4 linked regions of the Homo sapiens genome follow. The protein of the gene in region 1 interacts with the protein of each later gene in a biochemical or structural test. Each region holds a gene or a part of one and is shown in the gene's direction. Other genes may lie near its edges.

What was found.
Region 2: of the proteins of EZH2 (region 1) and AKT1, one has a biochemical effect on the other in vitro, tested with the Homo sapiens proteins (2 studies listed by BioGRID).
Region 3: the proteins of EZH2 (region 1) and ZRANB1 form a complex in vitro, tested with the Homo sapiens proteins (one study listed by BioGRID).
Region 4: the proteins of EZH2 (region 1) and RCN3 form a complex in vitro, tested with the Homo sapiens proteins (one study listed by BioGRID).

What each region holds. Positions count from the first base shown.
Region 1 is NC_000007.14:148,806,883-148,811,322, reverse strand, and holds the end of EZH2 (histone-lysine N-methyltransferase EZH2), read left to right. Parts: intron 1-908; coding exon 909-990; intron 991-1,932; coding exon 1,933-2,013; intron 2,014-2,167; coding exon 2,168-2,252; intron 2,253-3,616; coding exon 3,617-3,677; 3' UTR 3,678-3,940; downstream 3,941-4,440. UniProt on the Homo sapiens protein: Polycomb group (PcG) protein. Catalytic subunit of the PRC2/EED-EZH2 complex, which methylates 'Lys-9' (H3K9me) and 'Lys-27' (H3K27me) of histone H3, leading to transcriptional repression of the affected target gene.
Region 2 is NC_000014.9:104,785,718-104,792,748, reverse strand, and holds part of AKT1 (RAC-alpha serine/threonine-protein kinase), read left to right. Parts: intron 1-26; 5' UTR 27-105; coding exon 106-151; intron 152-7,031. UniProt on the Homo sapiens protein: AKT1 is one of 3 closely related serine/threonine-protein kinases (AKT1, AKT2 and AKT3) called the AKT kinase, and which regulate many processes including metabolism, proliferation, cell survival, growth and angiogenesis.
Region 3 is NC_000010.11:124,966,117-124,973,147, forward strand, and holds part of ZRANB1 (ubiquitin thioesterase ZRANB1), read left to right. Parts: intron 1-477; coding exon 478-665; intron 666-5,848; coding exon 5,849-6,002; intron 6,003-7,031. UniProt on the Homo sapiens protein: Ubiquitin thioesterase, which specifically hydrolyzes 'Lys-29'-linked and 'Lys-33'-linked diubiquitin. Also cleaves 'Lys-63'-linked chains, but with 40-fold less efficiency compared to 'Lys-29'-linked ones.
Region 4 is NC_000019.10:49,530,972-49,538,002, forward strand, and holds part of RCN3 (reticulocalbin-3 precursor), read left to right. Parts: intron 1-3,221; coding exon 3,222-3,424; intron 3,425-6,061; coding exon 6,062-6,234; intron 6,235-7,031. UniProt on the Homo sapiens protein: Probable molecular chaperone assisting protein biosynthesis and transport in the endoplasmic reticulum.

The sequences.
Region 1 (4,440 bases):
AAAAATTAGCCGGGCGTGGTGGTGCATACTTGTAGTCCCAGCTACTTGGGAGCTGAGGCAGGAAGATCGCTTGAGCCTGGAAGAGCCTGGGAGGTTGAGGCTGCAGTGAGCCATGTTTGTGCCACTGCACTCCGGCCTGGGCGACAAAGTGAGACCCTGTCTCAGAGGGGAAAAAAAGCAAAACAAAACAGGATTGCTTGGTTCTAGCCACATTTAGTTTTTCTCGTCTAGGGACAACAGGGAGAACAAGAGCTTTACCATAGAGTGGCCTGCTTAATCCACAACCTAGTTGATAAGGACCTAGAAACAACAACGTCATTAGTTATTCACCTTTTAAATTGTCGACAGTGTTACCGAAAAATCATAGGCCTAGCTTCAGTTTGGAACCAGCTCACCCAAATTTTTTTTTTTTTTTTTTTTTTTTTTGAGACAGAGTTTCGCTCTTGTTGCCCAGGCCGGAGTGCAATGGCGTGATTTTGGCTCACCGCAACCTCAGCCTCCCGGGTTCAAGCGATTCTCCTGCCTCAGTGTCCCGAGTAGCTGGGATTACAGGCATGCGCCACCGCGCCCAGGTGATCTGCCCGCCTCGGCCTCCCAAAGTGCTGGGATTACAGGCGTGAGCCACTGCAGCCGGCTTTTTTAAAAAACTCAGCAAAAAGACTTTGGTTCCTCACTTTCTCCAAGGATAATTACTTCAGGATGTGGAAATATTTCTGAGTTGGGGTCCTTAGTATACAGTTATTCTTTATTACTGCGCAGACCGAATGGGAAAGAGAACTTGGCTGTAGTGACCCTTTTTGTTGCGTTTTCTCCAGAAGGTCCAGTATTCACTCTGTGCGCTTTTGTGTGTTCTGTCAGGCTTGATCACCTTTATCCAAAAGAATTTTCTCCTGTGTCTTTCTTTTTAGATTATTTCTCAAGATGAAGCTGACAGAAGAGGGAAAGTGTATGATAAATACATGTGCAGCTTTCTGTTCAACTTGAACAATGGTATGTTTCAGAGCTGGGAGGCAGTGAGTTCCTGAGTTGCATGTGGCAGCCTTCTGCCGGCCGAGTGTTCAGAAACGAGGGTAGAGGTCAGTGAGGTGACCAGAAGGAGGATCTCCTTAGAGGCATGGGGGGCTGCTTGCTTGAAAGGAACTGGAGCAAGGAATTCCTCAGGGAGCAGATAGACTAGATGTGCAGGAAACCGCCTCTCTGGAGTCCCGGCTGTCTGTGGGTGGCACTATCCCAGCATCTGGCTGTGAAGGGGACGTTGTGCTCTTGCTGCTCACCTCACCTCTTGTGTTCAGGCAGCTCAGCACACCTCCTCCAGTCAGTGCCTCTGAGCGGGGAAGGAGGGGAGGAGCACTGCATTTGCAACCATCTTCCAGACTCCCCTGGATATTCTCAAAGGACTGAGAGGAAAGGCAGCTGCTTTCATAGCTGATGTTCTGGGGTAGAATGTAAGGCTGTGTAGGGATGTTTCTGGTGGGATTATGTGAAAATGGAGGTAGGCTTAACATGTAAGATATTCAGAGAAACTCTTAGTTGGAACAAGTAGAATAGGTTTTTTTCTATGAATGCTTTATAGACATTATAATGAAAAAAACTAATTTTAAATGTGAAAATGCCTATTCGTGATGTTTGGAAGAATTTTGTCAGATTTTTTTTTTTTTTTGCTATGTTTTGCTCAGTAATGTATGTTTATAGTTGATAATTAATAGCTTTTGAGTCAGATAACCATCTTGAATTATAGGTGATTAATTTTAACCTGGAACAATAGTGTGTTCTTCCAAATGTCATTTCTTACTGAATGAAGCTGCTTGATTTATTTGCTTTTGCAGGCAAACCCTGAAGAACTGTAACCAGTTGCATTTACAAAATCATAATAACTTGGTTTACTTATAACTGAAATTATTCACTGGGCTGTGCTTACTTTTTTCTTTTTAGATTTTGTGGTGGATGCAACCCGCAAGGGTAACAAAATTCGTTTTGCAAATCATTCGGTAAATCCAAACTGCTATGCAAAAGGTAGGTACCTTTGACGTGAGAATTGGAACTCCCTTTTCAGTCCTGTGATGATGGACTTGAATACTTCTGGGATAGTTGTTTGTTATGTGAACAAGTCAGTTAACCCCCCGTGGCCCGTCTTCATGCTCACTGACACCAGTGTGTCTCTTTGCAGTTATGATGGTTAACGGTGATCACAGGATAGGTATTTTTGCCAAGAGAGCCATCCAGACTGGCGAAGAGCTGTTTTTTGATTACAGGTTGGTAAAGTACATTTCTAGCATGATCTCTAAGGGCTTTTTCTACTGGATTGTGAACTCTGGACAAAGGAGGGTTTTTAGTTCTTTGCTTCTTTTGATGGGTCACTTTGCCATGAGCATTAGTGGGGAATTAGGTTACACTTTCCTGTTATGTATTTATTATCCATTTATATATTATACAAGGCATGCTTATTTTTAAAATAGAGTAAAATCCATGCAGAAAGCCCCATTTCTCACCCTGCTGTTGACAGCTGGGTGAGTCCTAGACCTTCTCATATCATGCCGCATGCTGCATGCTCACTCGTGGAGCGTTTTCCAGATAAGTGCGATCACACTGTCCTATAGATTTTTCTGCAACATGGTTTTACTTGACAATATACTATGCATATCTTTATGGATTAGATCTACTTAATTTATTGTTTGCTATAATACTTATTACACATATCATTACCATTTTAAAAGGGGCTGTTGGCAAATCGCTGTCTGATCACCCTGTGGGGATGCCTGGGACACGTGGGCCACCAATGGTATCTGTGTGGTTAGGCATTAGGCTGCCAGTTGACACTGTCAAGCTCTGTGGGATACATTTAAGTCAGCCATTGAATACAGATTTAAGTGCAGTCAGATGACTGTCTAGTTAATGAACTCCTGTAGCCCCGTGTACATCCCATCCAGAAGCTGTCTTTGAGTACTGTGTTCTTGCATATTCAGGCTGGCCTTTAATGGCTGTTGCACAGCAGCGAGCTCTCAGTGAGGCAGACAGGGTCTGAGTGAAGGGCCCACTTTAGCAAAGGCCGCTGCCTTCACTCCAGGCTGGCTCTGAATGAAGAGTGTGGGGTGGAGCTTCCTTGGGATGACCCGGTGGCCTCACCCCCCATGGTGGGCTTCTTGTGCTCCTCTCTGGGTGTCCGCTGCACTCCAGTTCTTGCTTCACCTGGGGGAGCAACTGGCGGGCTGCTCTTTGGCCCTCTTTGCTATGGTCATCATTTTTTCCAGACCATGGTTCTATTTTGCCTTCCCAGCGTCAGGCCTAAGCATCCTGATGTGGACCAGCCTTCCTGGGACCACTTGCTTCAGAGGCATAGGGGAGGCTGGTCAGGCTCTGGGAATGCTTGTAGACAGGTTTGTTCACTTCAGAACTTGGCAGCGTCTCAATTAGATGGCCAGCAACACAGACCTATGCATTGCCTTCTATGAATGTGCCGTTATGCAGGCAGCTGTGTAATTGGATGGGTTTTTTTTTTTTTTTTTTTTTTAAAGACATTTTAATGCACCCACTATCTTCAGCAGGCTTTGTTGTGTTAAGTCTCAGCACATGTTGGATGGGTGGCCATCCAGCGGACATCTCCTTCCTGTTGTTTCAGATACAGCCAGGCTGATGCCCTGAAGTATGTCGGCATCGAAAGAGAAATGGAAATCCCTTGACATCTGCTACCTCCTCCCCCCTCCTCTGAAACAGCTGCCTTAGCTTCAGGAACCTCGAGTACTGTGGGCAATTTAGAAAAAGAACATGCAGTTTGAAATTCTGAATTTGCAAAGTACTGTAAGAATAATTTATAGTAATGAGTTTAAAAATCAACTTTTTATTGCCTTCTCACCAGCTGCAAAGTGTTTTGTACCAGTGAATTTTTGCAATAATGCAGTATGGTACATTTTTCAACTTTGAATAAAGAATACTTGAACTTGTCCTTGTTGAATCATCTCTCATAACGTGTCAATAACTGCTTTCAGGACTGCTCAACAAAAAACTTTTAAATTTAACTCCTTGGGTTTTTTAGTTGTCTTTGTATGAATCTTGATTTAACTAATACTGCCTGTGAATATGTGGAAGACATATATGAAGAACACTGCTGTGCATCCTGAGGGCTTACCCAGTAAAGGGCTTGATCTTATAGACAAGACCAGGGTGGGTACGTTCCAGTCAGCTGTGCAACCTGGAGAAAGAGATTTAACCTCCAAGTCTGTTCCCCATATATAAACTGACAGAGTAGACTTTTAGGTTATTTTTAAGAACGTACCTAGTTCTAAACTCCATTAGTCTAGATAGAGTTCTTTAGAAACAAACACAATATAAGTTGGGATTCCTTACCTACCTTATCACAAAAGGTGATTGATAGGTATAACCAAACTGTAGTTTTATATCTTCTCAGAGGTAAAAATCACAAACTCTGAAAGCGTCAAGGAAACG
Region 2 (7,031 bases), on another chromosome or scaffold:
CATTCAGCTTCCTTTGCTTCTCCCAGAGGCTGTGGCCAGGCCAGCTGGGCTCGGGGAGCGCCAGCCTGAGAGGAGCGCGTGAGCGTCGCGGGAGCCTCGGGCACCATGAGCGACGTGGCTATTGTGAAGGAGGGTTGGCTGCACAAACGAGGTTAGTACCCGCTGCCAGGGCTGGGCCTGGGGAGGGAGAGATGGGGGTAGTAGCCCCAGGGTCTGTGAGTGCCTGTGCCCTGCTGGGTGGGAGGGGCTGCCTCCCCTGGGGCTCCTGGGCTGGCCTAGGGTGAGTGTCCTGGGCCCCATGTCTTCCCATGGCATGGAGGGCACGGCCTCGGGGAGGCCAGGAGGATGAGGCCCTGTGCAGGGCCGGCCATCTGAGTGGCTTCCTGGTGTGGGCCCTGGCAGGCGGGGGAGCTGCTGCCAGCCTCTCTCCTGGCTTTCCTGGAAGGCAGCGAGGACACTGGGCTGTTCCAGGGTCTGGCACGCTGGCGGCCCAGGGCACTGCCCAAGGGCTCCTGAGGGCAGGGCAGGGCTGCTTGGCTTGGCCTGGTGCCTGCTTCAGGCCTGAGCTTTGGGGGTGGGGGGAATCCGTACCGCCTGGGCACAGGGCATGTTTGCCTTGGAGCTGCAGAGCTGGCTGAGCCAAGTCCCCCAGCCCCTGTGTCCCCCTCCTCACTCATTTGGCCTTGCAGCCTATGGAGGAGGTGCTGCCCGAGGGGCCTGGCCAGCAGCTGGGTGGGATGGGAGCTGGGGACATAGCCCCACCCCTTCCAACCCTGTGCAGGCCCTTCTGCCTCACCCACCCTCCGTTGCTCAGCGGGGTGCGGTGGAGTCTGGGTGGCTGTTTTGCTCCTCTGTCCTGCTAGGGTGGGCTTCCTGTTCAGGTCCAGGTCCTCTGGCCAAGTCACTCTCTTCTGCCCCAGGCGGAATCGGTCCGCCCTCTCCTGACTTCTTTTTCCAGACTTGTTCCCTCCTAAGTTCTAGTGATCTCATGCCAGCAGCCCCCCGGCTTTACGTACACCCTCTAGCAGATGGGTTTCACATCTGGTAGTGGGGAGACCCCAAACACAGCTGGAGCAGACAGGGAGGTGTGGCAAAAGTAGGTGTCACAAGATGGGGCATTGTGGGATGTATAGGAGCTCACAGAAGAGCAGGCCTAAGGAGCCACAGGAGCCTGGGGGTGGGGTGAAGGAGTGACCGAGATGAGATGCTGGGGGAATCAGGGGTGTGGCTGGCTGTGTGTTTGGAGTGTTTGAGTGGGCAGCTACCAGTGATGGCACGCGGGGCCTCGAGATGAAGACAAGGAGGCTGCAGACGCCTGTGGTCCTTGGGGAGCTTCTGGCTCTGCTTCCCCCCAAGGCCTCCTGCCGCATCCTGCCTTCTCCATCCCCTCCCCGTGTGCTGTCCCCTGCTTGTTCCCCAGGAGTCCTGCCACCTGTGCCTGGAGGTCCTCTCCTCACCTCACAGCCCTCTTTGGTGTCAGGGACCCCCTGCCCCGACCCTGGCCCTGTTCCTCTCTGTGTCACATAGTCTGCTGCCTGGGGCCGCTGCTTCTTTATCCTTGGCAAATGTGTGTTTGTTGATAGACTGTTGGATCTCGGGCTGACCCAGGAGATGCCAGGGCCTTGACTGCCCAGGGGCCCAGGCCCCAGTTACTGGGGCACCCATCAGCCAGCTGGGCCTAGGCAGGAGTGCTCCCCCGAGGCCAGGTGATTTTCAGGCTGCTGCTGATGTCGTGCCTTCAGGAGGGGCCTGGCAGGGACAGGACATCAGGCCCAGTGGGGCGTCCAGAGAGCTGAGTTTGAACCCTGGTTAGCCACTCTATCGCCATGACCCTTTCCAAGAGCAAGGTCATTGAGCTCCTTGGGCCTCAGTTTCCCCATCTACACCAGGGAGCGGTGGTGGGAGAGAGACCTGGTGGAGTGGAGAATGGCTTGTGGGCGGCCCTGAGTTGGGGTCCGGCCAGCCTCAGCAGCCTCTGGGCTCTGTCATCTGGCCCCTAGCCTCAGGCCAGGAGAGAGGGTCCTGTACCTCTACCCCCGGCTCTTCCTCCTCCATCCCCAGTGTAGTGGGCGCTGAGGATGGGAGGTGGCGTGGATATGACATATGCCCTTGGCAGGCATAGCCCCTCTTGTTGCCGAGAGCAGGTGGCGTCCACCCGCATGGCCGGCCGCTCCTTGCGGAGGAAAGCCTGTCCTCCGGGGCCTGCCGCATTTCGCCACTCCCGTCCCTGGGGTCCCCTGTGTGTCTTGCAGATGTGCTGTGCCACCCTCCTGGCAGGGCCAGCCCCACCCGCAACACTGGTTAGAGGTACTAGCTGCCTTCCTGTCCCTAGCAGGGCTGTGCTGGGCTGACCCCACCCGTGCTTCACAGTGCTCAGGCCTGGCTGGGGGTGGGGAGGGAGGGAGGGACGCAGTGACTGTCCTCCAGGCCCGGCCGCAGCCCCTTGCAGACGCCCTGTTCCACTCCCCCCCAGCCTTGCTCCTGCAGGTCAGGGTGCTTGTCTCAGAGGCTGGCCCGCACCTGTCCCCTTTGCCGGGACTCCCCACGACCGTGGCCTGGGGCACTTTGGTTCTCAGCTGAATCCCCAGGTGACAGTCCCACCACGGCTACTTGGGCTGGCCACACGTGGCGTGATGGTGCCTTCAGGGGTGATGTGGTCATTGAGATGAGAGGGGACGGGTATGCCCTGTGTGTGAGGGGTGGGGTGGCAGTGTCTGCAGGCTCCTTCTCCTGCTCCTTGGGAGGTGAGCGTCATCTCTGGGAAGTGGCCCAGGCTGCTTTCTGTTGTTCTGATGTGTGTGCTCTGAGTCAGAGGAGCTTCAGGGACAGAAGGGACCGGGCATGGGGACACAGGAGTTCCGGCTGCAGGCCTGTGTGGACCTGTGGCTGGACCCAGGCGAGGCCTCTGGGTCTGCACATCTAACAGGGAGATGGTTCCTGGAGGGTGAGCTTAGGCTGTTAAGGGCAGGAGCTAGTGAGGAGGCTGGTGGGGCCTATAGGGACAGGGGGCCAGATGTCCCCTCCTGTTTCGGCTGTCTCACTGGATAAGCAGCCCAGCTCAGCTCTGGCCATTGGTGGTCTGGTGGGCTCAGTGTTGCTCAGACGTTTGCATTTTCAAAGATTTGTTCTGTTGTGTGAAGTCTCCTGATTTTTGAAGGCTGACAATTTTAAAAAATCAATCCTGGGCCAGGGCGCAGGTCTGGCTGAACTCGGCCTCCAGCCTGCAGTTTTCCTTCCTTTGATAGCTCCGTGCCAGGCTTTGGCCAGAGGCTGTGTGGCTCTTTTGAGGTACTTTCCCCAAACAGCTTGCTCACCTTGCCCGCTTGCCCCAGTACTCCTGGGGCCGTGCACCAGCCTGGCTGCAGCCTAGCCCCGTGGAGAGCTGCCCTGGTGCAGCCCCGGCCTGGAGCCTGTTTTTGTCCACTCGCGGCTGTCTTCCTGAGCGTCCCCCCGTCCACATGGCTGGACCAAGTGGGTCAGGAGAGGGCCGAGGCGGGTGGCCGGGATGCTGGGACCCAGGATGAGGTGCTCTGGGCTCTCGAGAAAGGGCTGGGCCTAGGCCAGGAGTGGGTGCCGGCCGCAGGGGCACCACCTGGACTCCCTCAGGCTGGTCGCTGTCCGAGAGGGGCCGGGGAAGAGCTGCAGGCCTGGCTGCCTTCGGCAGGCTGTGACCCAGCAGGCCAAGGCCGAGTGGGCGGGGGTCGAGGGAAGCTGCCTGGGGCGCGTGGGTTACGCGGCAGACGCTCCTGAGTGTGTGGGCAGCGTGTCCAAGCCACGGATCTGGGTGCCTGGCCGGGCCCGGGTGACACGGGACCGTGTGTCCATGCGGCTCACGGAGGGTCCAGTCTCCGGACATCTGAGTCCTTGCCATGCCCTACCCCGGGCCCATGCCTGGCATAGACCCCCCAGTCCAGGCCTCAGGGCAGCCCCCTCACCACTCCTGCTGAGTTAGCCCCAGGCGTCCCGGTGGGGAGTATGGAGGCTGGTCTCTGACCCCAAGCAGGTGCCTAGGCTGGGCCTCCTTCCCACCCCCTCTCCCCGCCTTGAAGTCCTGGCACTGGCTGTCCCTGCGGGGGGGCACTGAGGCAGGGAGAGAGTGGTTCCTACCCCAGTGTGTTACTTCGCTTTGGTGAGCGACATAGAACCTCACTGCATCCCCAGCTGCTGCTCAGCCATCCAGCTGGTCCTGGGGTCCCTGCGTGAGGTGGGGGACCTCAGAGGGTACAGGCCACTCCCCTTCATCCTGGAGGAGGCCTTGGCTTTGCTGAGTAAACACCCTTGAGAAGAGGTCTGTGGGGGACTCTGAGCCCACTCCAGAGAGCAGCTGCTGCGGAGGGCCCCGCAGGGCTAATTGTTTGTGTGCAGATGGAGGCTGCTCATTACCCCGCCAGGATGAGGGGCCCAGCAGGACCCTGAGGGAGGGAGCCCGCAGACTCTCCCCTCAGCCTGTGGGAACCTTTGGGCTCCAGGCCAGGGCTGCCTGTGCCTCCTGGGCCTCAGTTTTTCCCAGGCTGTCAGGTGAGGGTCAACCCCAGGCTGCGTCTAGGTGGCTTCAGTGTGAGACCCGCGGGCCCTGGGCTGGTTAGTGCCAAGCTCTGCCTCCCCTGGGGGAGCGTTGAGGGTCTGGAACGGCCCCCGTGGGCAGGCCAGGGACAGAGATGGGGAGGCAAGTGTGCTGGCTCCTGGTGGGAGGGCTGGGCAGAGAGTGGGGGTCCCAACAGCCCTGGGCCTACCCGGGAGAGGGGCAGGAGGCACAGGCTGGTGGAGGTCATGGCATGGCTGTGGTGGAGGCCGCCAGCATCAGGGAGGTTCCTGTTTTGGGAGCTTGTTGAGTTCTCACTTCAAAAACAACAAAAGAGGAAGCCGAGGTGGCCTTGAGTGGGGGTGAGGGGTCACTGCTGGCCCCAGCCCTGGACCTTAGCCCCCACGCCTGGTGGCTCCTGAGTGGACAGCTCTTCTTCCTGTGTGTTTCTTGGTCACTGGCCCTCTCTGGGCAGGGATGCCCTGTGGGGGGCTGGACTCCGGGAAGGGAAACTGAGGCCCAGGAGAGTGGACAGAATGTGGGTGGAATGATTCCTGTGCTGGGGCCTAGACCCCCGTACACCTTCCACTCTCAGGAGAAGCCTGGCCGGGTTGCATCAGGCCGGGTTCCTAGAAGTCCTGCACGAGGCTGAGCGGAGGGAACTGGCGCGGCCCCCGCTGGCGTCCCCTCTGCCTGGGCACACCCGGCCCGGCTTGGGGCCAGCACCCTGCCCTCGGGCCCTCCCATAGCTGAGACTGGTGGCTGTGGCTGTGGCTCTGGGCCTGCTCCCCAGGCCACCCTGGGTGGGCAGCTGCCTGCTGCTTCTGTCTGCTTGGACCATTGTGCCTAGTCCCATGGCCTCAGGAGAAGGTTCCCCCAGCCCAGCGCTGGGGCCCCGGGCAGGTTGGCAGAGGGCCCTGGGGCTCCAGGCCAGGATGGGGCTGTTAGGCGAACCCTAGGCCCCTTACTTCCTCATCTCCAACGGGAGTTCCCTTCCCTGCCATGCCGCCTTTAGGTGTGTTTTCCTTGAACCTTAAGGAATGATAGGTTTGGATTTCAGAAACGTTGGAATTGAGGGGGTTGGGAGTTCATGGGTGACTCTGCTGCCAATGTTGCGGGCTTTGGGGTGGGATCCTTGGGGCGCTGTGTTTGGGCTCACACACCCCCCAGGCGGGCCCGGTGACTGCAGACCCCACCCATACCCTGTAACCTGGCGGGCCCACCTGCCCAGGCCCTCAGCTGGTTGTCCAGCTCAGGGGTGGAGACACCCCCTGGGCAGGCCTGGCGGGGAGGTGGCTGCTCCCTGGGCCTGGAGAATGCAGAGAGGCCCTTCGGCTGGCCAGGGTCTGGCTGGCCTCCCCACAGACTGGGGCCAGGGGCACAGCAGCCAGGTGTAGGGCGCGGAGACGCTGAGCTGCACAAGCTTGGTGAGGTGTGGGGTGAGGCCACGGGGGTCAGGGCCACAATGTCCCAGCAGGCCGGGGGATCAGAAGGAGCACCCTCCACAGCTGGCCGTGCTCTGGGGGCCCTCCTGCCCCAGGCGTGGCTCCAAGTTGGGGCAGAAACAAGATGGTGGGGAGATGGAAGGCCCCTCTGTGGCGGGTGCTTCCCATGGTCGGTGTGGAGGACGAGGTCCCTACTGCCTGGTTCCAGTTCCCCCAGCAATGCAGGGCACTTTTCCTGGGGTGTCAGGGATTGAGAGGCCAGCACTGGAGCCCTTCAACCGCCAGGGGCCCTGCCCAAGAGAGACGGGAGGAGGGAGGGGCTGTGGGCATGGCTGCGTGCCCCCGGCCGAGCCCCGGAAGGAGCCTGTGCCCGTGCCCACTTCCTTTCCCGAGGGCAGTGTCTACACGTGGGACACTGTGGCCAGCCCTCCCTCGCAGCAGGCACTGTGTGCTGTCCCCATGCCCAGCTTCCTCCCACGCAGGGAGCGAGGGTGAGGGCCCTGGGAACCCACTGGGTGGAGGGCACTTGGCAAAGCCTGCTGCAAGTTATGGGGAGAGTGGGCGGGGGCAGAGTAGGAGGCGCCAGGGAGGGGCTGCAGCCTCATCTGCAGGGGTCCTGAGTAGGCAGGGTGGGCCATGACATGGGTGGGGCTTGTTTGGGGCAGACCAAAAATGAGGTGGGGGACAGGGACAGGGACAGGGTCTTGGGATGTGCTGGGCTCTGCGATGGATGGGTGTGTGGCAGGTGGGGTGCCTTTGCCGGCCCGAGGGGTGGGTGACGGGCAGTGCCTGTGGGGGAGGACATCCAGGCCCAGGTGGTCTGTCAGGGGCAGCACCAGGGAGGCCCAGTACCCCACCCAGTAGAGCCCCAGGAGAATGGAAAGCTGAGACCCAGGTGCTTCCCTGGAGTGGCAGGAAGAGAGGCCCCAGCGCCTCCGGCTGTGCCTCAGCGAGGTGGACGGGGTCATGGTGGTGCCGCCTGCCCGCACCATGTTCCTCCCGGGGTGTGTGTGTCGGGCTGAGGCCTGCTCCATGGTGGAGCGGAAGGAGGTGAAGAATTTGCA
Region 3 (7,031 bases), on another chromosome or scaffold:
AGCAGTATGGAAAGCTCAGCATTTGTTTTGATTCTGCTTTAAGAATGCAGTGTAAAGGGCAGGAGGAGCTCAACACCAGCTGGAAGCACATCCCTGTCTCCTTGGTTTCTGCAGAGTCAGGATGAACGCAGGACCGGAACCAGGGGCTCAGTGTCTCTTGTTACGTCTGGTTTCTCATACTAGATTATTGATCTTCGATCCAATTCATGCAGCCTAATAGTTCCTCTAAATCTCACCAGAGCCTGGAGCCTGCACTGATGGTAAGGTAAATGTCTAGGCAGTTCTAGTTCTGGAAGGAAAATTTTTAAAGGGAAAGGAAAAAACTTATTTTCCTTACTCTTATAGGACATTTAAATGATGCATCAGGATCCAGGAAGCACAGAGAAACACTTAAAAGATTTTGGAGTGATTGCTACGGTTTGTGTTTTTTGAAGAAAATGAGAATTAAATGCTTTTCTATCTTGATGCTTGTTTTAGGGGTTGTAGAAGGTGATTTAGCTGCCATAGAAGCATACAAGTCATCAGGAGGAGACATTGCACGTCAGCTCACCGCAGATGAAGTACGCTTGCTGAATCGTCCTTCTGCCTTTGATGTTGGCTATACTCTTGTACACTTGGCTATACGTTTTCAGAGGCAGGATATGCTAGCAATATTGCTTACAGAGGTAAGTTTGGCGTTTTGGTTAAATGTTCTTTTATATTAAAGAAACCTGTTCTTTAGTTTTCATTTTTGATTTTATAATGTTTCTCTAAGCAGCTTTAAAATGTTTTGAATTCTTTTACCCCCTTTTAAAAATAACATTAAACTTAAGAGACTTAATTTTTAAGGGTATATGCTTTCAAATATTTGAATAGTCACAACAATGTTTGACTCATCATGTTTGGTTCATACAAACCTGGGATGTATCTGTCATTCTTTAGTCATTCAATTAACAGATATTTATTGTGCATTTACTGTGTGCCATGCACTAGGCTGAGAAGGGATACAATTGTAAAGATACTGGCTCTTTCTTCATTAAATCTCCAGCAAAGTAGAGAAATGAACAGGTAATTCTGTGCAGCCTGTGCCCTGGTAGATGTAAATGCCAAGTGTTATGCCAGTACTTGAAGAGTTTTGAGGTGTCTTGTCGTCTTTCTTATAGCAGGTAATGTTTTTGCTGCAATTTGAAGAGAAAGAGTTAGGAGTTAGCCACATGAAGTGGATAAGGGAGAGAAGGGAAGTTGAGGAAAGCATTTTTACAGGGGGCAGAGATGGTGGAATTTGTGGTGAATCTAGGGACTTGCAGGTAACTAAGCATGGCTGAGATGGTGATTGGGAATGGAGAGAAGGGAAGTCTGAAAGATAAGCAGAGGCTGGATTACGAAGGATCTTCTGTGTCAAGGAATTTGAAGATTATCCCTAGGCACTGGATGGTGTTAGGTATGGGCGCAGGGGAGTGAGCAGAGCAGATTGTGTTTTGGCTGCTGCACACTGGAGAGGGGTGAGCCTGGTTAGGAGGGAGTTGCAGAGGTGCTGGCAAGAACTTCTGCCAGAAGGGCAGAAGGGTAGCCATAGAAGGGTACCCAGAAGGGTAGCCTTAGAAATGGGAAGAGGGTTAGAGGGTTGGAGAGACTGAGACAGGCCCTCAGTCTGAAGAAGTAGACTGATTGGATATGGGAAGATACAGTGTGGATGTAAGTTGATTCTTCAGTTTCTGGCTTACATAACTAGGTACATGCTACCAATGATAGAGATTGTGTATGAATTATTCAGAATGTGACTACATTATCCAGGTTTTTTTTTTCTTTCTTTTTTTTTTTAAGCTGGAGTCTCACTCTGTTGCCCAGGCTGTAGTATAGTGGCACGATCTTGGCTTACTGCAGCCTCTGCCTCCTGGGTTCAAGCGAGTCTCCTTTGTCAGCCTCCTAAGTAACTGGGATTGTAGGCACATGCCACCATGCCTGGCTAATTTTGTATTTTTAGAAAGGTGGGGTTTCACCATGTTGGCTAGGCTGGTCTTGAACTCCTGACCTCAAGTGATCTGCCCGCCTCGGCCCCCCAAAGTGCTGGGATTATAGGCATGAGCCACCGTGTCTGGCCAAGGTAACATTTTTTAATGGTAAGAGAAATAGAGTAAAAGTGCAGAGAGTCATATTAATTGTGGATTCAAATTTTGTCAGTATACATCTTTCATATATACTTTTGCATATTTGTTTATTCAAATTTGCCAATATTTGGGAACCACTGCAGGGCACTGTATGGGGATTAAAAAATTTGAAGGTTAGATGGAAACATGATTGTAGTAGCTAACCCCTGTGTCCAGTTTGGTAAGATTCCAGTGAAGCCGGGGTGGGGGGCTTGAGAGACTGAAGGCCATGATGAAAACAAAAGGGCAGGCTTATTGAGTATAAGGGAGAAGGGAACTTTTCAGATAGAGGGATCCAGGTTTTGGAACATGAGATAGAAGAATTGGAGTTTTTCTAGTGTCGAAGGCCTGGCTGCATTTGTGTTGTGGTGCCTAGTTGTGTTGTCTATTGTATATTGGAAGGGCTGTCAATGTGGAGTTGTAGTTGCTGGTGGTGACAGGAGCCAGGATAAAGAAGGTGGTTGTGAACTAGGGTGAAAGTCTTAAGGGGCTCCCCTAAAGGTAGGTAGAAGATTATTACAAGGTTTTAGAGGGGCCATTGTGAGTCATTGAGCTCCTGAGACAGTCTGAGGAGTAACAGTGGGATGATGATCGAACATCAGTATATTTATTGCAGTATCACAGATTGTCTGGAAACTTAGCAGCTAAGACAACAAATGTATGTTATCTCACAGAGTTTGTGAGGGTTAGAATCCAGGAGCTGCTTAGCTGAATAGTTTTGGCTCATGATGTCATGAGGTTGCAGTCAAGTGGTCCAGGGCTGTAGTTGTCAAAAGACTCAACTGGGGCTAGAGTATCTGTTCCTAAGCCCACTCAGGTGGCTTTTGGCAGGAGGCTTCAATACTGTGCCATGCAGGCCTGTCTACAGGGATGCTCATGATACAGCAGCTGGTTTTACCCCCAACAAGTGATCCAAGAGAGGCACAGAGTACAAGAGAGTGATCCAGTGTCTTTGAAACCTGCAGTGTCTTTTATAAATTGATTTAGGAAGCAACATACCATTACTTTTGCTGTATTCCGTGGGACGTGTAGAACAACCCTGGAACAGCGTGGGAGAGGTGGAGGGGATTTGTTCCAGGCAAAGAGCAAAATTGGTCATGGATTCAGTCTCCATGGAGTAAATACTCCAAAGGACAGAATTAAAGGGGCCAGTAGGGAGACTGGAAGTGGGGGAGTCTGGACTAAGTCTAGACTAAGGGGGTGTGTTGCAGAGAATGCTCAGCCAAGTTCTTTTGGAATGAGAACAGGAGAACATTAGAGTTGGGGATATGTATGTGGGGCAGGAATTTTCATCGGTTTCTGTGTCATGGACCATGTTGGTAGTTTCATGAAACTTATGGACTCCTTCCCAGAATACTGTTTTTAAATACAAAAAATAAGAAGTAAATGAGATTACAAAGGAAATCAGTTGTATTGAAGTAATAGCTACCAAAATACTAAACTAAATTTGTGATATATAAGAAAATACATTTTAATATAGGTAAAAAGTTGGGGATAATTGATTTAACTTGAATTAAAACCAAATTCCCATTAAAGTACATGGACCATTCCCAAGATCATGGACCCTAAGTTAAGAACTCCCAGCCTACGGAGATGGTTGAGAACCATAAGGTTGAAGGAGGTGAGAAGGTGAGTGGCAGGCTTCAGGGGCACATCCTGCTTAAGGATGGTGGTGGAAGGGGTTGTTTGGGGGCTAAGTTTCTTTTAGAATGTTTGTGGTAGTCAGGGTCCAGTCCAGGTGGTTTTTGGAAAGGTCTTTCCAGGTTTTTGGAAAGGGCCTGAGAGCTAGCTGATGGGAATAAGCTATTTTTGAATTTACTTTGGGGGAGCCATTTTAACTATGTTACTTGAGAAATAGTCAATTATATTCTGAAAATATTTAATATTTGGTTTTCCATGTTTGAGTGTTGACTAATGGTTGGGCTCATGGAGTTAAGATATAGTGAGAATTTTCATGGTTAATGGTAATCTTGGCCAATAAAGTCTAGTTGAACTGAATTTCCACGTAGGAGTTTTTAAATTTTTTATTTTTTTCTTTTCTTTTGAGACAGACTTTCTCTCTGTTGCCCAGGGGAGTGATCATGGCTCACTGCAGCCTTGACCTCCCTGGCTCAAGTGATCCTCTCACCTTTCAGCCTCCCCAGTAGCTGGGACTACTGGTGCATGCCACTAATGCCTAGCTAATATTTTGGGGTTTTTTGTAGAGGCAGAGTTTCATTATGTTGCCCAGGCTGGTCTTGAATTCCTGAGCTCAAATGATCCTCCTGCCTTGGCCTCACACAGTGCTGGGATTACAGGTGTGAGCCACTGCACCAAGCTGCAGTTTCAGAATAGGGAGTCAGGTAACTGTGCTGGGTATGCAGGGTTTTTGAAATATTATTTCTTTAATAGCAATAGCAGTTAGTTGTCTGCATATATGATGTAGATAACATTATCATTAAACCTTACTCTTTGAGAAGAAGAAGAAGGGGCTGGAAGACCTGTTGCTTCACACCCCACTGTGGCTGGAAGGCTACCTTTGGGATAATCGTCCAGGTTGGTGACATCAGGGAACAGGCTCACTGTGGGTTCCCACGGTATTCTCTTTGGGGTTTTTTTTTTTTTTTTTTTTTTTTGGCAGAGTCTCTCTCTGTCACCCTGGCTGGAGTGCAGTGGCGCGTTCTCAGCTCATTTCAACTTCCTCCTCCCGGGTTCAAGTGATTCTCATGCCTCAGCCTTCCAAATAGCTGAGACTACAGCTAATTTTTGTAGTAGTATTTTTAGTAGAGACAGGGTTTCATCATGTTGGCCAGGCTGGTCTCAAACTGCTGAGCCGAAGCAATCCACCCGCCTCGGCCTCCCAGAGTTGGTGGGATCACAGGCGTGAGCCATTGTGCCTGGCCTTGAATTCTGTTTGTTACTCGCAGATGCTCAACTGTGATTTTAGAATTCTGTGTATGTATTTTTATTTAGCTCCACAAACTAGATATGACTGAAATGTGAGGTTAAATTAAATCTTTGCAACATTTGTTGCTATTTAGCATTTTAAAAAGAATAAAAAAATAACAAAAGAAAGTTCTAGCCTTCTTTGGTTTGTTGTTTTCTTGCTTAGAGGCCTGTGCAGTAGTGCTCCCATCTCACTCCTGTCAGGCTGAGCTTCAGAGGTTGGCAGTCTGTGTTTAAACTTGCAGATGCCAAATGCTTTTTTAAAAACTCAAGAGTGGTAACAAATGGAGAGGAAGAAAGGGCTTGAGGTCAGTGGGAACTAACCCTTTAAATACCGTGCTTTTTTTAAGTCCAAGTTAGGGTACTTGAAACTTGTGGTGTGGGAGAAGAGTATTTGCAGTTTCCCTTTATCAGCTGTGATTCTCTGCTTCTAAAGAATGTTTTTATTGTGTGCACGATGGTTAGTCTACTGAGGTTTTCTGTCCTCTCTCCTCTTCCTGTGATGTGTCTATGAACAACACCCTTTTCCATACATTTTTATGTGCATCTTTGAGTATTTCCTTGTGATAAATTCTTAAAGAGAATTACTGAATCAGAGGATAAAACATTTTTGTGACTGTTACTGAAAACTTATTCTGGTATATACTTTCATTGGTAAGGAAATAATACCAGTGTATTTTAAGATTAAAGAAAACCTTGAGTTATTGGGAAATTTTGCTGATTTCTTTTAAATACTGTTGTTTTCTGCTTCCACTTATGATACATGAGATGAGAGGAAGGTTTCTTTTGTATTTAAGGTGTCTCAACAAGCAGCAAAGTGTATTCCAGCAATGGTGTGTCCTGAACTGACAGAACAAATCCGGAGAGAGATAGCTGCCTCTCTTCATCAGAGAAAGGGGGATTTTGCTTGCTATTTTCTGACTGACCTTGTAACATTTACATTGCCAGCAGGTAACTCCAAAATCTAACGTAAAAAGACTTTTTTATTTTATTATAGTTACATTTGTGTATGTAGGTGAAAAATGTTTCTGTTAGAAAGCACATAACATAGCTACTGTATGTGCATCTTAAATTACTTGACTGTCTTATATATGCTGGAAGTGAGCATACAGAGGATTACTTGTTAGGAAATGCGTCTGCTATCTGAGAGGAAGACAGCAGTTGATAGTAACGGATTTCTTTGTGGACCTCAGATTATTTTTTAAAAATCTGTTGTACTCTTTTATTTTTCTCTTTGGTTTTATTTTAGAATATCCTTTAAAAAAATCTCCTTTGAAAAATTTTCCCTTTTCATGCTTGTGTGTTATTTGAAATTAGATAGCTATATTGGTTACCTGGTATTAAGAGATGGGATTAGAACATGAGCTTTTGATGGGTAGAGTCAGGTTATTTGAATTGAACACACTGCATCCTCTTGAATATGTCATTCCTTTTTTACTCATTTATTTCTACTATGTTTGTGAAGGAACTTTTCATTTTTCAATTCATTGACAGTTGAAAACATCCTCCAGAATGCGTTTTGTCAGTTGGCATTGAATAAATACACCAAACACCAAACGTTTCTAAAATCTTTCATCTGAGATTCTGAGATCTGTTTGTTTTGTTGCTGTTTTTTTTTTTTTTAGATTGAAACGGGGTCTTGCTCTGTTGCCCAGGCTAGAGTGCAATGGGCGTGATCATAGCTTACTGCGCCTTCAACTTCTGGGCTCAAGTGATCTCCTGCCTTGACCTCCTGAGTAGCTAGGACTATAGGCACATGCCACCCACCCCTGGCTAATTTTTAATTTTTTTGTAGAGATGGAGTCTCGCAGTATTACTCAGGCTAGATCTCAGTGTTTTTAATTTTTATGTTCAGACAAACGGATTTTTACAAATTGTAGGAGATAGTAACTAAGTTTTCTGAAACTGGAGGAAGTTTCATTTGAAATGCACTTGTTCTGAGTATTTAAGCTTACCCCAGAATGATTAGATTTTTAAAAA
Region 4 (7,031 bases), on another chromosome or scaffold:
TGTGGCTGGAACTCAGTGAGAAAGGGGAGAGAGTGGGAGGTGAGGGCAGAGAAGGAGCAAAGGGGTTCAGCATGGTGGTTCATGTGTGTGATCCCAGCACTTTGGGAGGCCAAGGCTGGGGGATCACTTGAGCCCAGGAGTTCAAGACCAGCCTGGGCAACATAGTGATACCCCGCCTCTACAAAACAAATACAAAAATTAGCCCAGCATGGTGGCGTGCTCCTGTAGTCCCAGATACTAGGGAGGCTGAGGAGGGAGGATCACTTGGGCCTGGGAGGTCAAGGCTGCAGTGAGCCAAAATCATGCCGCTGCACTCCAGCCTAAGCAACAGAGCAAGACTTTGTCTCAAAAAGAGAGAGGGCCAGGTGCAGTGGCTCACGCCTGCAATCCCAGCACTTTGGGAGTCCAAAGCGGGCGGATTGCCTGAGACCATGCAAAGGGGGTCAGATCATGCAATGCAAAGCCTTTTAGGCCACGATGAAGATTTAGGCTTTTCTCCAATTGAGAGTAGAACTGAGGGAGGGCATGAGCTGACTTAGGTTTTGAGAGAATCCTGCTGGCTGCGAGGTGGGGAACAGACTGTAGGGAGCAAGAAGCAGGGAGCCCAGTGAGGAAGCGACTGCGATAGTCCAGGTGGAAGACAAGACAAGATGGTGGTCAGATCAGGGTGGAGACAGTGGCAGTGGTCCCCAGGACTGCTGGCTGGGAGATTGTGCTTGGATGGGCATGCATGAAGGAGAAATGGAGGAAGAAGGGCAGTGACAGGTTAGCACATTTAGCTTAGCACTAATGGCAATGCCAGGCATTGTCCTAAGTGCTTTATTATTGTTATTATTATTATTATTTTGAGACGCAGTCTCGCTCTGTCTCCCAGTCTGGAGTGCAGTGGCGTGATCTCGGCTCACTGCAAGCTCCACCTCCCGGGTTCATGCCATTCTCCTGCCTCAGCCTCCCGAGTAGCTGGGACTACAGGCGCCCACCACCACGCCCAGCTAATTTTTTTGTATTTTTAGTAGAGACGGGGTTTCGCCGTGTTAGCCAGGATGGTCTAGATCTGCTGACCTCGTGATCCACCCACCTCGGCCTCCCAAAGCACTGGGATTACAGGCGTGAGCCATGGCGCCTGGCCTTTTTTTTTTTTTTTTTTTTTTTGAGACAGAGTCTCACTCTGTCATCCAGGCTGGAGTGCAACGGCGCGATCTCGGCTCACTGCAAGCTGCGCCTCCCAGGTTCACGCCATTCTCCTGCCTCAGCCTCCCGAGTAGCTGGGACTACAGGCACCTGCCACCACGCCCGGCTAATTTTTTGTATTTTTAGTAGAGACGGGGTTTCACCATGTTAGCCAGGATGGTCTCGATCTCCTGACCTTGTGATCCGCCCTCCTCGGCCTCCAAAGTGTTTTTTGTTTGTTTGTTTGTTTTTGAGACAAGGTCTTACTCTGTTGCCCAGGCTGGAGTGCAGTGGCACGATCTCGGCTCACTGCAACCTACGCCTCCTGGGTTCAAGCAATTCTCCTGCCTCAGCCTCCCGAGTAGTGGATATTACAGGCATCCACCACTGTGCCCGGCTACTTTTTGTATTTTTAGTAGAGACGGTTTCACCATGTTGGCCAGGCTGGTCTGGAACTCCTCACCTCAGGTGATCTGCCCACTTCGGCCTCCCAAAGTGCTGGGATTACAGGCGTGAGCCACCGTGCCCGGCCTATTATTGTTATTATTATTTGAGACGGAGTCTCGCTCTGTTGCCCAGGCTGGAGTGCAGTGGTACTATCTCGGCTCACTGCAACCTCCACCTCCCAGATTCAACCAATTCTCCCGCGTCAGCCTCCAGAGTAGCTGGGATTTCAGGTGCGTGCCACCATGCCCTGCTAATTTTTGTATTTTTAGTAGAGACAAGGTTTCACCATGTGGACCAGGCTGGTCTGGAACGTCTGATCTCAAGTGATTCGCCTGTCTTGGCTTCCCAAAGTGCTGGGATTACAGGCGTGAGCCACCGCGCCTGTCCTGTCCTAAGTGCTTTACATGGCCTAACTCATTTATTCCCCACAACCGCCCTTTTGGGGTAGGTACCGTTTTTTCTTCCTCCGTTTTACAGAGGGGTAACTGAGACACAGAGAGGTTAAGTCACTTGCCCACAGTCACACAGCCAGTAAGAGGAAGTGGCTGGATTTGGACCTAAAATGTCTGGCTGTGGAGCCCAAGCGCTTAACAACACCAGGAACCTCAGAGAAGGGTGTGATTCCGGGGACAGAGTGGGGCCCTAGACAGACTGGAGCAGAGACCGCCTGGTGCGGGAGGTGGGGCGGTGACTCAGGCAGGCCTGGAGAGGGCTCTGCTGTCTCGGATTTTCGACTTTAGGGAGGGGGCCGCGGGGGCCTAGGGACGGTGACAGGGAGGAGGGCTCCAGGTAGTCTCTGTTAATTAGAGATTGGGAGAGGACCGGCCTGGCAAGGCGTCACCAAGGGAGAGGAGAGGGGCCCGAGAGCTGATAGGCGTGGCCCAAGAGAAGGGGAGAGATGGAACCTAAAGTGGCTTGACATGCGACAGGGAGGGGCACAGGAGCCCGGAGGAGCATGGGGAGGGGCAGAGGGAGACTGAGCCCCCGGGGTTGCGGGTGATGGTCCTCAGGCAGTGCCTGATTCAGCCGGGAGCAGGCAGGGGAAAGCCACGGGGCTCAGCACAGGGCAGGGCTGGAGGGAGAGGAGCCTGAAATTGACACGCGCAGCCTGGTAAGGGGGAGGGGCATGGGGCGGGTCGGGGCCTGAGACAGCGGGGGATCGGGGGTGTGGCCGTGGCTGTCTGGGTTCAGAGTCAATCTTGCAACAGGGCCCCCTTGGCAAGGGTCACAGTGCGACGCCGCGCTCCCCTTCACCACCCCAGCTCGGCCCAGCGAGAGGTGCAGCACGTGCAGGCCGAGGGCGGGGCCGGCGCGGAGAGGGTGGCCCTGCATCGTAGTAGGTCCCTCCCCCGCAGTGCTCCCAGCAGGCCCGCTCGTTCTGGAGAAGGGCGTGACTCGACCTGGGGGTGGACCCTAGGCTGAGGGGTAGGGTCCTCCGGTGGGCTTGGTCCCGAAATTGACCCGCGCCCCTCCCCAGTTAGCCCGCGGACCGTGGACTGTATTTTCAGCCCCGGATCCGAAGTGTCCCAGGGGGCGTGGCCCGTGCGAGGGGCGGGGCCTGGGGGCGGGACCAGAGCCTGACGTGTGCCCGCCCCGGCTTCTAGGCGGATCGTGGACCGCATGGACCGCGCGGGGGACGGCGACGGCTGGGTGTCGCTGGCCGAGCTTCGCGCGTGGATCGCGCACACGCAGCAGCGGCACATACGGGACTCGGTGAGCGCGGCCTGGGACACGTACGACACGGACCGCGACGGGCGTGTGGGTTGGGAGGAGCTGCGCAACGCCACCTATGGCCACTACGCGCCCGGTACGCGGCGAGCCCCCGACCCTGCTCCCCATACACCGTGACCCTGACCTTCTGGACCGCCTCATTCTGAGAACCCTGAACCCATTTACCCGGAGTCCCTGGCCCCTAACCAGGCTCTACCCACTTTTAGGAGCCCATAACTGTGAGATCTTCAGTTTCTCACCTCTGGCTTCTCTTTTTTGTTTTTCGTCTGCTTATTTTTCTGGTATTTAGCTGCATGCTAAAAACGATCTTTTTTTCAAACATGAAGTCACAATTAGGTGCTAAAAGCCACTGAACGCACCCAAACAGGGACTTGAAACCTGGGCCCTCAAATTAAAAGTCCAATGCTCTACCAACTAAGCTACCCAGGTTCCCTTCAGGGCTTTCATTCTGGGACTCACCACCTCTGTGACAATATGACTAGGGTACTTGAGATCCCTGGCCAAGGACACCTACTTTCCATGCCTTGTCATCCTGACCCCTAACTTCTGTGACCTCTCATCCTGAGAACCCCAAAGCCAGTTACTCAGCCCCTGACTCTCAGATCCCTCCTTTCTGTCCCAAGTCCCAGCCTCAGTGCCCCACACCCTGCCACACACACAGCCCTCATTCTCTCCCTCCTCTCCTCTCTGTCCCTGGCCCCAGCCTCCCCGTCCAGTCTGTCCTCCACAGGGCTCCGGGGGCGGGGTTCTTCATGCCCAGCACTGACTCTGCCCCTCCCTCCCCCTCCTGGGCCCCCAGGAGACGGTCCCACTCCCCAGCCGGGACGTTTCCTCCTGTGGCTTTGTTTTTCTGCATTTTCTGCACCAAATGGATTTTCTGTGGTTTTCCTGAACTCACCACACTCTTCAAACCTCTACCTTCTGCCCATATTGTTCCCTCCAGTTACAATGCCCGTCCCCTCCTCTCAGTCAAGCCATCTCAGTCCCTGTAAGCTACCCCATCACAGCCTTAGTCTGGGGCCAAAAGGCCCACTGTCAACTCATAGTGGGCCATTCCTGTCTCCACACGCTTGGATCAGTTATTTCTTCTCTCTGAGAATCAATTTTTGCATTCAGAAAGTAGAATACATGGAAAAACCCACTGTATGTGCTTTTTTGTGATGATTAAATGCAATATTGTGCATAAAGAGCTTAGCATATAATCTCTCACAAGTTAGCTAATTTATTGGGTGGATATAATATGTTACATAGCCTGGGTGCCATGGCTCACGCCTGTAATCCCAGCACTTTGGGAGGCCGAGGTGGGTGGATCACGTGAGATCAGAAGTTAGAGACCAGCCTGGCCAATGTGGCAAAACCCCGTCTTACCACAAAAAAATACTTAGCTGGGCGTGATGGTGTGCACCTGTGATCACAGCTACTCTGGAGGGTGAGGCAAGAGAATCACTTGAACCCAGGAGGCAGAAGTTGCAGTGAGCCGAGATCACATCACTGCACTCTGGCCTTGGCGACAGAGTGAGACTCTGTCTCAAAAAAAAAAAAATATATATATATATAGATAGATAGATAGATAGATAGATATAGATATACACACACATACTAATAATATGTTATATAACATATTATATACTTAAATATATATACAAATTATATATAAAGTATCAATATATGCTTTTTTTTTTTTGTGAGGGAGTTTTGCTCTTGTTGCCCAGGCTGGAGTGCAGTGGCGTGGTCTCGGCTCACTGCAACCTCCGCCTCCCGGGTTCAAGCGATTTTCCTGCCTCAGCCTCCCAAGTAGCTGGGATTACAGGCATGCGCCACCACGCCTGGCTAATTTTGTATTTTTAGTAGAGATGGGGTTTCTCCATGTTGGTCAGGCTGGTCTCGAACTCCCAACCTCAGGTGATCTGCCCACCTCGGCCTCCCAAAGTGCTGTGATTACAGGTTTGAGCCACCGCACCCGGCCTACTTTTTTTTTTTTTTTTTTTTTTTTGAGATGGAATGGAGTTTCACTCTTGTTGGCCAGGCTGCAGTGCAATGGCAAGGTCTCGGCTTACTACAACCTCATCCTCCTGGGTTCAAGCAATTCTCCTGCCTCAGCCTCACGAGTAGCTAGGACTACAGGCGCCCACCACCATGCCAGGCAAATTTTTGTATTTTTAGTAGAGAAGGAGTTTCACCATGTTGACCAGGCTGGTCTCGAACTCCTGACCTCAGGCGATCCACCCACCTCGGCCTCCCAAAGTGCTGGGATTACAGGTGTGAGCCACTGTGCCAGGCTTCTAAAATTTTTTTTTTTTTTTTTTTGAGACATAGCCTCCCTCTGTCGCCCAGGCTGGAAAGCAGTGGTGCAGTCTCAGCTCACGGCAACCTCCGCTTCCTGGGTTCAATCGACTCTTGTGCCTCAGACTCCCGAGTAGCTGGGATTACAGGCGTGCCCCACCATGCCCGGCTAAGTATTTTTTTGGTAGAGATGGGGTTTCGCCATGTTGGCCAGGCTGGTCTCAAACTCCTGACCTCAAGTGATCTGCCAGCTTCAGCCTCCCAAAGTGCTGCTATTACAGGCGTGAGCCACTGCATCCAGCCTACTGATATATACTTATTAACTCCACAGAAATCTTTGTACCCCAGTAGGATTTACTTTGTCTTTGTTTTAACCTGCTTGGCGTTTCCTCCATTAAAGCTCATCTCACTGAGACCTGTCCTTCCCCAGGTGAAGAATTTCATGACGTGGAGGATGCAGAGACCTACAAAAAGATGCTGGCTCGGGACGAGCGGCGTTTCCGGGTGGCCGACCAGGATGGGGACTCGATGGCCACTCGAGAGGAGCTGACAGCCTTCCTGCACCCCGAGGAGTTCCCTCACATGCGGGACATCGTGATTGCTGTGAGTGGCGGCTGGGGAACCCTGTCCCCCACACCCTTCCGGGGACCCAGGCTTCCGGTTCAGGTCCTGCTTCCCAGCACCGACCTGGGGGCAGGCAGTCACCTGGTTCTCCAGCATCTTGCCGGGGAAGCCAGGCCGCAAACACAGGTCAGAGGACGGTGACCTTTCCCACCTCCACTCTCAGTCCCCTGGGGTCTGATCTCTCCTCGTCTGGCCTTCCCCTCCCTGTGCTCGCATTTGGGGTCCAGGCCCCCAGCCTTCCCTCAGACAGCCACTGTGCCCCACCTTATACAATTTCTTTTCTTTCTTTTTTTTTTTTGAGACATAGTCTCCCTCGGTTGCCCAGGCTGGAAAGCAGTGGTGCGATCTCAGCTCACTGCAACCTCCGCCTCCCGGGTTCAAGCAATTCTCCTGCCTCAGCGTCCCGAGTAGCTGGGATTACAGGGGCGCACCACCACACCTGGCTAATTTTTAGTAGAGACAGGGTTTCTTCATGTTGGTTAGGCTGGTCTCAAACTTTTGACCTCAGGTGATCCGCCCGCCTCAGCCTCCCAAAGTGCTAGGATTATAGGCATGAGCCACCGTGCCCGGCCAATTTTTAATTTTTTTTTCTAGTAGAGATGGGATTTCACCATGTTGGCCAGGCTGGTCTTGAACTCCGGACCTCAGGTGATCTGCCCACCTTGGCCTCCCAAAGTGCTGGGATTACAGGCATGAGCCACCGTGCCTGGCCCCAAAATGTGCTTTGTTCTATAGAAGAAGGCTTTTTTTTTCTTTCCTTCCTCTTTTTTTTTTTT